Linked DNA regions of Homo sapiens: all the other regions are linked to region 3. The links come from fine-mapping of genetic effects on gene expression. A gene starts in region 3. Each other region holds a variant in brackets. All regions are shown on one strand. Distances are between the middles of the regions.

The links. PIP is the estimated chance that this variant, and not a neighbour inherited with it, causes the effect.
Region 1: its variant is the best candidate, but not a certain one, in a credible set for the expression of TGM2 in subcutaneous fat (GTEx, PIP 0.60).
Region 2: its variant is the best candidate, but not a certain one, in a credible set for the expression of TGM2 in whole blood (TOPMed, PIP 0.52).

The regions. Positions count from the first base shown.
Region 1 is chr20:38,113,308-38,117,652 of GRCh38, forward strand. LOC124904899 (a long non-coding RNA gene) reads left to right here. Exons shown (of 2, transcript XR_007067580.1): 2 at 1,313-1,571. Among named protein-coding and RNA genes, the nearest start is that of TGM2, 50 kb to the right of the region's middle. The variant T/C (reference allele first, on the strand shown) is at 1,729.
Region 2 is chr20:38,134,220-38,138,219 of GRCh38, forward strand. TGM2 (transglutaminase 2) reads right to left here. Exons shown (of 13, transcript NM_004613.4): 10 at 3,894-4,000. Among named protein-coding and RNA genes, the nearest start is that of TGM2, 29 kb to the right of the region's middle. The variant C/A (reference allele first, on the strand shown) is at 1,921.
Region 3 is chr20:38,163,122-38,167,121 of GRCh38, forward strand. It overlaps TGM2 (transglutaminase 2), which reads right to left and starts at 2,149. Exons shown (of 13, transcript NM_004613.4): 1 at 2,068-2,149. The coding sequence starts at 2,077. RefSeq lists a silencer at 2,002-2,441.

The DNA of each region.
Region 1 (4,345 bases), 50 kb before region 3:
AGTCCCAAGTCCCCATACCGTGTGACCTGAGGAGCCAATAATAACCCCTGTCTCCTGAGGAATTATGGAGAATTCAGTGAGGTCAAACAGGCAAAGCTCAGAACACAGTGCCAGGCACACAGTGAGAGCTCAGTGTGGTGGTGGTGGTGGTTGTGGTGGTTCAAGGAAGGATTCGCTTTAATCAAAGGGCCTGTGGTATGGAGAAAACATTCCTCTAGGCAATGGGGCGCCTTTGGAGGCTTCTAACAGAGTGACCTCCCTCAAGTTTGTGTGTGGAGAGGCCTCCAGCCCAATGCCCACCACATGGGGGAGCCGTGTTCTCTGCCAGAAAACTTGAAATAGGAAGATAAGCCTGGTGGGGCGGGGTTAGGGGAAAGGGAGGAGAAATAACCGTTGTGGGTTTTCTGCGAAAGCAGAGCCTAGGGGAGGTTGAATGGACAGTGACAATATTAGGGATTGAAGTGGAGCCATAAATCCTGGCTCATTATCCCCAGAAACCAGAGGGATCAGGTTGACTTGAAGAGGAGCCAAAGGTAAGAAGAGAGGCTGGCTCCCAAGGTGAGAAGAGCTGAGGTCCAGCATGGGGAAGGACCAGCCTCTCCCTCTGAGTCCAGGTTCTTTCTCTGGCACTCCTGGAGGCAGCCCATCCTGTCCCTGCATGAACCCTGCCAGTAATAGGGAACTCAATGACATGTGCAGTAGCCTGTTCTCACGAGGTTCATCCCTGGATGTTCAAAAGAGCTTCCTGCCTGCCGAGTGCAAACCTTCCCCCAGAAGCTTCATTCAATAATTCAGTAAGTCTCTGGGCACCTACCATACGCCCTGCCCTCATGAGGAAGGAGCAACATAGCACTGAGCAAGACAAAGTCCCAACTCTCAAGGAGCTTAGGTTCAGCTGTAGGAAGGCAAATATTATACAATGATATCACATAATGCCAGATGATAATACGGGCTATGACAAAAATTAAAATAGAGTGACATGACATAGTGACTACCCTTGATAGGGTGGACAGGGAAAGTCATGAAACATTTAAGGGCAGGCATAAATGACAAGAAGAGACTAGCTATGGCAAACTGCATTTTCCAAAGATGGCTTGAGCAGTATCTCCCATCACATTCACTCTTATGCAGTGTGACTCACCACTCCTTCAGCAAGAGATGGAGTCTATTTCTCCAGCCTTGATTCTGGGTGGGACCTGTGATTGCTTTGACCAATGGAATAAGGCAGGAGTGATGCTGTGTTATTTCTGGATGTAACCTTTAATTACTCCAGTAGCTTTTGCTTCTGGGTTCTTCGGACTCTGTTTCTTAGGCCACTTCCTCTTGGAATCCAGCTGCCATGCTGGGAGAATTCTAAGCCACATGGAGTGGCCAACCATGTAACTGGGCTCTCAGCCAACAGCAAGCGTCAACTGCCCACCATATGAATGCGCTGTCTTCCATCCAGCCCTCGAGCCTTCAGATGACTGCAGCCCTAGCCCCCATCTGACTGCAGCTGCAGAAAGAAACACTCAACTGGGCACAGTCAACCCCGGAAACATAATAAATTACTGTTTTGTTTTTGTTTTTGAGATGGGGTCTCACTCTATCACCCAGGCGGGAGTGCAGTGGTGTGATATCGGCTCACTGCAACCTCCACCTCCCAGGTTCAAGCAATTCTCCTGCCTCAGCCTCCCGAGTAGCTGGGACTACAGGCGCCCGCCACCATGCCTGGCTAATTTTTGAATT[T/C]TTATTAGAGACGGGGTTTTTCCATGTTAGTCAGGTTGGTCTCGAACTCCCAACCTCAAGTGATCTGCCTGCCTCGGCCTCCCAAAGTGCTGGGATTACAGGCGTGAGCCACCATCCCCAGCAATAAATTACTATGTTATGTCTCTAACTTTTAGAGTATAAGAAATAAGTAGAACACCACAGAATAGCTTTGTGCAAAAGCCCTGAAGAGGGAAAGAGTTTGGGATATTTTGAGAAATCAAAAAAGTCCAGTTTGGTTACAGCAGAATGGGTGACTGGGGAACTGACAGAGAGAGGCAGGAGTGCGCCAGACCATGCAGCTCATAGTAAGGACAACAGGGAGACATTGAATGGCTAGGCAAGGGCATGCATGATTGGATTTATGTTTGAGAAACTCCCTCTGGCTGCAGGGAGAAGAATGAATTCTAGGGGGTTGTGGTATTTTTTAATAATGTTGAATTTTGGGAGGCTAATATTCATTTTTTATTTATTCATTTTTTAAGAGACAGGATCTCATTCTCTGTCACTCAAGCTGGAGTGCAGTGGCTTGATCATAGCTCACTGCAGCCTTGAACTCTTGGGCTCAAGGGATACCGCCACCTCAGCCTCCGAGGTAGTTCAGCCTCATACAATGAATTGGAGTTTATTCACTCTTTTTCTATTCTCTGGAAGAGATTATCAAAGATGAATGTTAGATAGCACTTACCAATGAAGCCATCTGAGGTTGAAGTTTTCTTACTGGAAGGGTTTTAACAACTGATTCAATTTATTTAATTGTTAAAGGACTATCTAGGGTTTTTTATTTTGTCTTAAATCAAAATTGGAATGTTATACCTTCTAGTATGTTGCTTATTTCACTTAAAATTTCAAATTTATTGGATCAAAATTTTTCAAAATAGCCTCTTTTTTCTTTAATGTTGGCAGCATCTGTAGTGATGTTCATTTTTTATTTCTAATATTTTTGTGCCATTTCTCTTTAATTAATCTTCATGAATATTCATCTTTTAACTGGAGCATTTGGTCTTTTGATATTTAATATAATTTATCAATGTATATGGGTGCAAACCCACTAGCTTATTTTGTGATTTCTCCCCTCCCCTCCCTCTGTCCCTCCCTCCCTCCCTTCCTCCTTCCTTCCTTTCTTCTTACCGCCTCCTCCCTTTCTCCCTTCCTTCCTTCCTTCCCATTTTGAACTGATTACTTTTGCGTTCTATTTCCCCTCTCCACTAGTTTGGGGATTATGCACTGTTTTTATTCTTTTAATGTTATCATTGAAATTACAACATGAATATTTAACTTACTGAAGTCTAAATATAATCAGTACCATTGCTCTTCTTCCAGGCCTTAGAACACTGCTACTCTAATTTGACATATACTCCATGGTTTTGGTGTATTCTAATTATTTTTTTAAAAAAGATAAACTCTACAAGACATTAATGTTATTGTTTTATGTAGTCAGTGCTCAGCTAGACTGGCAGATGGATTGATCATTTCTTTGTTCTTCACTTCTCCTTTCATCTCAAGCCTTCCATCAGTGTTCGTATTTCTTCTACATAAAGTGTACACTGTAACAAGTTTCAACAAGCAGAATGTGCTCTATTCTTTTTTGTCTGAGCATGCTTTTATTTAACCCATATTCTTGAAGTACATATTGATGAGCATGGAATTTTAGTTGGGTAGTTAATTTCTTTCAGCACATTGAATGTATCATGTTACTATCACCTGGCTCTGTTGTTGCTGTTGAGAAGTCTTCATCACTCTGTCATTTCTTTGAAGGTTATTTTTCTTATTTTCTGGTTGCTCCTTAGATTTTTCTCTTTGTCTGTGATGTTTTTCTCCTTCACTGTGATGTCTAGACGTGGATTTATTCTTATCACTTTCCTTGAGATTTGTTGGGATTTTTGAATTTGTGGATTAGTACCTCTCATCAGTTTTGGAAAGTTCTCTGTCATTATTTCTTCAGTTAGTGTGTCTGCCCCATTTTCTCTCTTGTATTTTTCTGAAACTGCTATTAAATAGATGTCAGATATTTTCAGCCTCTCTTCCATGTCTCCCAACTTCTCTTTTATGTTTAACACCTATCTACTTCTCTGTACTATATTCTGGATCATTTATCTTCTGCCTCACTCGTGTTTTTCTTTAGCTCTGTTTAATCTTCTATCAAACCCAACCATCGACTTCTATGTTTCAGTTATTGTATTTTTCATTTCTAGAAGTTCTATTTGGGTTTCTCTATTTTTTCAGTTATTAAAATTGTTGCAAAAATATGTAACATAAAGTTTACCATCTTAACCATTTTTAAGTTTACAGTTCAGTGGTACTAAATACATTCATAATGTTGTGCAACCATCAGTATTTGGTTCTCTTTTAATTCTGCTGGTACTTTTCATGGTTTCTGTTCCCAGTAGATATTTGTAAGGTAACATGCCTTCCTTCCTGCGGTGCCCCATCTAGATTGCTAATCCTCACTTATCTGTACCCATCCTCCCAAATCTGGAGGTAAGTCTCATCTCCTTTTAAAACCTTTGACTGGACAGTCATGGTAGAAACTAAAGCCATCATCATTTAATCATTTTGTGTTTACTCAAAAAACAAAGAAACAAACAAACTTCTATTA
Region 2 (4,000 bases), 29 kb before region 3:
TTGGAAAATGCTGCCCCGACCTGCCCACCTCTTTGGCCTTTCATTCCCTGGGTGGATCTGCTCCAACCTCTCATCAGATGATGTGATCTGGGGAAGAAAACCAAACTTTTGTGCCAAAAAGGACAAAAGAGGGTGAAAATTACTAGGTCAAGACCTGGTGGTGCAGAGTGGAAATTCTAGCTAGCTCCACAGGAAAGAAGAAAAACATTATCCTCCGGGGGCTTGGAGGATGTGGCCCAACTGTCGACTATTCTAGGAGGTGGAGGCCAGGGCAGGGCTGGACCTTTGAAAGTCTCCGTCCACAAGCCAGTGGCCACGGCCTTGGTCTTGGGCCAGATGCTGGCTGGGAAGAGGAAACCTGTATGGTCAGTCTCAACCATTCTTTAGACAATTTGCCCTGTTCTAGAAGGTTACTCTGGGGACAGTCACCGAGGCCACATTGGCTGCATTCCTGTGACCCACCTGGAGGGATGAGGGAGGAGAGAGCATGAAAGGGTGGAGGCAGGAAGGAGAAGAGAAAGAAGCAGCAGAGAAAGGAGGCAGGGGTGGGGGCAACTGGATTCCTTTCAGCCATCCAGGGCCTGGCTTCCTGTCCACCAGCACACGGAAATTCCCCAGATCTTATCATCAAAGAATAACAAGTAACTCAACCACAGTATGGGGGCTTAGAGGGAACGCATCTCAGCTTGAGCTTGGCATTGGAGGTTCCAACAGGGGACTTGGACCAGCCTCACTTTCCAGCCAGAGGCCAATGCCCAGGACCTTCTGTCCTCCCCTTCCTCTCCCTGAAGGCTATGTCTCCAGTGGATCCCCAACAGGAGGGACCTGCTGCTCACCCTCTGTGGTGAGCATGTTCCTGGGAGGATGAGAAAAGTCAGCATGCTTGGCTGATGCCAGTGCGGAACAATGCTCTCAGGGTCCCGATGGTGACTTAGAGGTGAGGGCTGACTCCACAGAGGCCTGGGAGGAAGTGATTTTGGTGTGTCTGGCCCAGGCCTGGAGTTCACCTCATGCCACTCATTCTAGGACAGACACTTTCTCCCCTTGGAGCAGCTCTGAGCACGAGAAGGAGCTGGTGGGTGTGCACTGAAACGATGGGACTGGGTCTCCAATGTCAAGCCCAAGACTTCACCACTGCTCAATATATCCGTGTAACAAAACCGCACTTGGACCTCCTAAATGTATACACACACACACACACACACACACACACATACACACACACAAAACAGGGCTGGAAGGGCTCTTAAAAGAGGAAAGCACCTTCCCCTTTGTGTGAATGGGGAACCCATAGCCTTGCTGGAGGAGAGGAATACCCAGGAGCCCACAGCCAGGCAGCAGGCAGCAGGCAGCAGGAACTAGAACTTGGGTGTCCTTGTGTCCTGAACCCCCACACGCCTGTAGAGATGGATCCTGTCTCGGACTCTCGGGGCCTGGATGAGCAGCGAGGGCCGGGTCCTTTCTACACCACCGAGGTGTCAGGGACACAGGAACCCCCGAGCCCAGGGCTGACACCACTGCCTGGGACAGAAGGTGTTCAGGAAAGGTCCCGGGCTTCTCGCCTCCCCACGCCTCTTAGCACTCGCACTCAGGGAGGAGTGAGGGCCCCACCGTGTGCTGGTGCTGCTGTGCCCTTTCCAGATACCTCCTGAGCACGCATCCTCTCCCTCAGTCCTCACGGCTGCGGGCGCATCAGGCAGGCATGTCATCACCCCATGTAACAGGCGAGCATGACCTAAGACTCAGAGAGCATGTTCACCGCGCCCAAGGTGGTGCATTCAGAGGGCAGCAGAGCTGAGATTCAAAGCCAGGTCTTCCTGGCCTCGGGAAATGTCTTTCAACAGCTTCAGTGTTGGGCCCTGTCCTGGTACCAAGAGGATCTGCCCTCTGAGGGCCTGGCCCCTGCTGAGGAGTCTGCCC[C/A]GGGCCGGACAGTGGGTGTGCCCAGGGCGTGCAGCTCCAGGAGTGCCCACGGTGGGCCCAAGATAGAAAAACCAGGAGGCAGCAACTGTCAACACTGCAGACGCCCCGCCCGCAACACAGACCTGCTTTCTTAGGAGGGTGAAAGCTGTGCCCCAGACGCCAGCCCATGGGCACCAAGGGTCCAGGCACTGTCATAGAGGAGAGGGACGACCACTGGTTTGACAGGCAGGAGTCCGGGGAAAACAGACGGGGAAACAAACTCTGTAAACACAAACCATGCCCCACCCGAGGGCTCTCCAGCATCTCCAGGTGTGGCCACACTGAATCCCAGGCATGAGTGCCTACTGTGTGCACACTCTCTTACCCCCGATGGTCCTGCACTGTTGGATCATGACCCCCAGGAGCCTGATGGGGACGCTAAGGTGCAGGGGAGTGGCCATTTGCTCTGGTGACACAGCGAGATGCTGCCCAAAGACGATGTCCTACTTGATTCCACTGCCCCTCAGAGGATGGCCAATGTCTCATTCTGCAGCTCCCAGGTCCTCTCCTAGCCTGGAAACCCCTCTGCCCTCCTCACACCTGCAGGGCTCCAAATGGCAGAAAGTGGGATGGGGCTGCTGGGTGGTGGTGGGGCTGCTGGGCGGAGCCCTGGGCTTGATTCCTGGTCCCTCACTGCCTCGCTATGTGACCTCAGTGGCCACGGCTCCTCTGAGGGCCTCAAGCTTATATTTAGGAAGATAACCAGGCACAGTGACAAAGCCAGACAGTGGAAGGGACCCAGAGGACAACCACTGTGCAGGAAGCCTGGTGACAAAGTCTTGGCTCGGGGCTGGGTTGGGTGGTCTAATGACACCATGTCACTGCGAAGGGGATCTGCCTAAAAAGGCAACTAGGCTGGTGCTGGGGACACTGGAGAGGGACAATCAAGTCCAGGAAGAAAGCACTTCTCCCTGCAGAGGCCTGGACGCTCCCACCTTTGGCTCGCCGATCTGCTCTGCCCAACATAGCAGCTTCTGGCCACATGTGGCTGTCTAACTTTCAACACAATTAAAACTTTAGTTTTGGCCAGGTGCGGTGGCTCACACCTATAATCCCAGCACTTTGGGAGGCCGAGGCAGGTAGATCACTTGAGGCCAGGAGTCCGAGACCAGCCTGGCCAACATGGTGAAATCCCATCTCTACTAAAAACACAAAAATTAGCTGGGCATGGTGGTGCACGCCTGTAATCCCAGCTACTTGGGAGGCTGAGATTGCAGTGAGCTGAGATCGTGCCACTGCACTGCAGACTGGGCAACAGAGTAAGACTCCATCTCAAAAAAAATAAAAAAACAAGCAAACAAACAAACAAACTTTAGTTCTACGGTTGCACCAGCCACATTTCAAGCGCTTAGCAGCCACGTGCAGCTGGTGGCAGCCATGCTGGATAGGCGGTGCAGACTCAGCACGTCTCCATCACTGTGGAAAGTGCAACAGGCACTTTCCAAGGCGCTGGGTTAGAGACTTTTCTTTGAGGCCGAGAGCAACCAGAGGCACAGGAGAGGTTCTCGAAGGGCCCATGGAGAGAGGCTGCTGAGGCATGAGGGGCTGGAGACAGTGGAATTCACTGGGAGAGGGCAGCAGAGGGTCTGTGAAAGCAGTCAGGGGTCACACGAAGATGAGGTGAAACCAAACAGTATAGCTGCTGTGAGGACAGGTTAACTCCCCAACTGTGCAACCTTAAGAAAATTACTTAACCTCTCTGTGCCTCAGTCTACTCATCTGGAAAACGGAGCCATGTTAGAATCCACCCCCTCACTCTTGCAATAAGAATTAAGTGGGTTGATATTTATAAAGTGCTTAGGACAGGGCCTGCCCCAGAGTCAGCGCCATGTAAGTGTCTGTGGGGTGAAATCACACATGCTAAGTGGTTAGGTCACTACCTAGCATGTTGTCAGTTGGCGGTCAACAAATGCTCCAGGAACACAGGGCTTTACCAGAGAAAGGCTCCAGGTTGAGGTTGAGCAGGTACTTGGTGCCACACTCGGGCCCCAAGATCCCATTGTAGCTGACGGTGCGGGCACAGAGCAGGAGGCGGCAGACG
Region 3 (4,000 bases):
GGAGCAGAGGACCAGGGCACGGTCAGGGTGACAGATGGGTGGGGGTCTTGGGGGAAAACAAATCTCATAAACCTTGGCAAGCTCAAGGTCAGGATGGGGAAGCCCTTAAGGTGGGAGGAGTGGGCAAGACAGACTCTGAGTGTGGAGCCACTGGACAGCATGTGGTCCAAGTGAGGCCCAGGGGCAGGAATTTGTTCAAAGTCACGCCGCAAGTTGGTCCTTGCAGTGGGAGAGCCCAGGTCTCCTGCTCACCATCGACTATTCCAAAAATGAGATGCAAAGTGCCTTGTATGTGAATTATCTCGACTTAAATCCCAAAACAACTCCGCTTACATAGATGCTATCATGATTCCCATTTTGTAGACAAAGACACCAGGTGGCTCCAGGTCCCAGAGCAAGTGGCTGCTTTGGGATTGGAATCCAGAGCTGTAGGATTCTGTAGGATTCTGCCCTGGGAACCACCTCACTACAGCTCAGTTTTTTCTCCAGCCCCTCTTATGACCACCCCTTCGCCACCATGTCCTGTGTTGTTCTCAAACCTGGGGGCAGATAGTTCTGCGCCACTGAAGTATCAGGGATGTCGGTCCCCGTGTAATCACAACAGAAGAGACCTCAGTGGCCAGAAGGAAAAACTTCCTGCTGGCCTATTGCGGCGAGGAAATGTTTTTGGAAACTTCAGACCCAGGGAGCTTGAGCAGGAAAGAGGCCATTGTTGTTCCCATGGAAGACCCTGGAGATACGGCCAGTCCCTGGGCTGTGGGAGCTGGGGCATTTTCTCCATCTGTTGTCCGAAGAAGGGTTTCCAGAAATCACGCCCAGCTCCAAAGATGCAGGTCTAGAATTGTAGGATTTATAGGATTTCTGCACTTAGAAAGGGCCTAGGCCTTCTAGGCCAGTGAGACCTCTGTCAGAAGTGGCCACTGTGACATGGGGCTGGAGGCTCATCATAACTGGCATCTCCAGGATCTCCCAGCCCCACTGAGCCCTGCTTTTGAGCATGGGGGTGAGAAGATGCATTGAGGACAAGCGGCCACCGAGGCGACACATCACAGTGTGTTGGGAGCTGGGCCCGAGGGAGGCAGGTGGCTGAGATCACACAGCAGGGTCAGGTGGGTCCACAGTTCCTGCCACCCATTCCTGCTCCACCTGCCCCATGTCCCTGTCCCACACCCCTTCCTGGGGGTTGCAATGGGTGCAGAAGCCATCCCCAGATGAACTTGACCCAAGAGCCAGCTGGGATTCTGGGTCCAGCAGTGACATCCTCCATTGTAGAAATCCCTCCAGCTGGGACCTACGAGAGTGCTGCTTGTGTGTGGGGAGGGAGTCAGGGGCACCAGTATGAAATTAGTTAAGCCTCTGTTCCACTCCTCTCGTTCCTCACAGATGCACCAAAGGCTGGAGCAGAGGACCAGGGCACGGTCAGGGTGACAGATGGGTGGGGGTCTTGGGGGAAAACAAATCTCATAAACCTTGTCCTATAAAATAAGGACACTGTTGTCCTTATTTTATAGGTGAGACTCAACAATTGGCCAAGGTCTAGGGTTGCAGAACGTGAGGGCGGGAAGAACAAGCCTGATTTCCGAAGGCTCCTGGATAGGATGCCGAAAGCTCCTCTCTGGCCGCTGGAGCCAAGGACTCAGCCAGGCTTGGCTTGCACACCACCGGCGTGGCATGCACACCACCTGGTCCTGGCTGGCAAGAACCACCCAAACCTAAGTGTTCTGAGGCCAGGCCAGCACCCCCTGCACAGCTCCAGGCACACATCAGAGAGCCAGCCCCCACTGACTGACTGAGGACACGTGCCAGTGGTCCGCCAGGACAGTACTTTACAGTTTACAACACCCCGTCGCGTTCCATTGCCTCACCTGATCCAGGGAGGCAAGGGTTAATGGTTATGCAGTGTGGATGGGGAAACTGAGGCTCCAAGCAGCATTGAGACGCCTCCTCACCCAGCCCGGTCTGCCTGTTGCTCTCCAAATCAGGACTTAGGGATTCAGCTCCCACCGGGTCCTGACCCCCAATGCCCCGGGGCCCCTGAGTGGCGGCTGCGGTGACTCTGATACTCACCCTCGGCCATGGTCGGGCGGGGGCGGTGGCTCCTTCCACTGGCGGCGAGACCCTCCAAGTGCGACCACTGGCGGCTGGCACTGCCGAGGCGGAGAGCGGCGCTAACTTATAGCCCGCTTTGGGGCGGGCCGGGGGCGGGGCCCCGCGGGAAGGCGGCGACCTGGGAGGCCACCCATTGCCCAGTCCCGGGCCCACGCCGCCAGCGCTGGGGCTCACCCAGGGGACCGGAGCCCGAGGGAGGGACGGCGGCCGGACGAGGGCGCCCCCTGGGGGAGCGGACAGGGACACACAACTAGCCCAGGATACAGACACACCTGGACCCACAGACTCAGACCTTGGAGAACAGACACCTGGACACACACACTCAGATACAGACACACGCAGCACCCTCATAGAAACACACAACGGAACCGGGGTGCACCTGGACACACAGATGTGGACTCTTAGGTCAGATCTGGGATCAAGAACACCTCCCCACCCCCAACACACACACACACACACACACACACACACGCACACACTCACACACATACTCAGATATACATACACAGAGAGCAGACGCAGACACACCAAGACAGGGCTGTGGAGATACACACACAAACACAGATACACTCCCACAGATACACCAAACACGGCTGGCCACGCAGACACAGTGACATGGATACAAATTCAGATTCGAATGGCAGACACACACCAGGACATAGATACAGCCTGACACAGCCAGGTAGCCTTGACCGCGAGCCACACACAGCTGTGGACACAGATGAGCAGGTGTCCAGAGGCACCTGGCACACACACAGACCTCCTAGACACCAATGCCACTGTCAGATGTGGACGCAAAATCAGAGAGGGCACCCACAGACACACAAAGATGTGGCTACTCAGAGGTAGACACACATGCAGGCATGGACTCAGGTACAGACATGCAGACACACCTGCAAAAACAGACACACCCATGTCCCTTCCTGTAGCAAAACCCAGATAATCCTCCGATCTCACCCATCCTTGTATCTGTCTAATCAGCCATCCATCTAATCAGCCATCCATCTACCCATCCATCCACTCACCCATGCATCACCTACCCCCCCACCTATCCATCCACTCATCCCTTCATCCATCCCTCCCTCGGCCTTCTCTTCCCTCCCTCCCTCAATCCATCCATCCACTGAGCTTTCTTGAGGCCCCACTGTGTGCCAGAAAGGAGCAAGACTAACTTTCCAGGGACTCAGCCTAGGACTTCTCGAACCTGGCAACCAGGGGTCCTATCTCTCATCCTGGTATCTCTGGTCTCTTGGTCTCCTGTGCTTCCGGATCCACTGTGAGCCCTGAGCGGGAAGGGTTCCCGGAGAGACAGAGGCCCACGGGGCTTCCCTGGCACTTTTTCCAAAACAAGCTCTACATTCCGGAGCAAGCTCTACATTCCAGAACAAGCTGTACATTCCGGAACAAGCTCTACATCTATTGATGAATTTGGAAGATAGAAGTAGCCCCCGTCTCCATTCCTAGGTGACATATGGCTCAGGGAAAACAACCCGTGTTGCTTCAGTGGATATTTCTCCCTGGGTCAAACGGGCTCTGGCTGGAGTCTCAGTGAACAAACCCACAAAGAGTGTTGGGCCCAGCTGACCCGTAATTGCCCCATTTTATAGAGATTGTTGCAGAAACTGCTCCCTGCAGCTGGTGAAAGCTTGGAGGAAAGAGCAGCGTGAGGAGAATCACCCGACCGAGAGGGAAGTCGGTCAAGAGGCCGGGGTTCAAGTTCCCACTCTGCCCCTGACCAGCTGTGTGGCCATGGGCAGGATTTTGCCTCAGTTTCCTCCTCTGCAAAATGGGGGAAAGAATCCCTCCCTCACAGGCCTGAGTAAGACTCAATCTAAATGACCAAGTTTGGGTGCCTTATACGTGGTGAGCATGCAATAACTGGGGCCCTGAG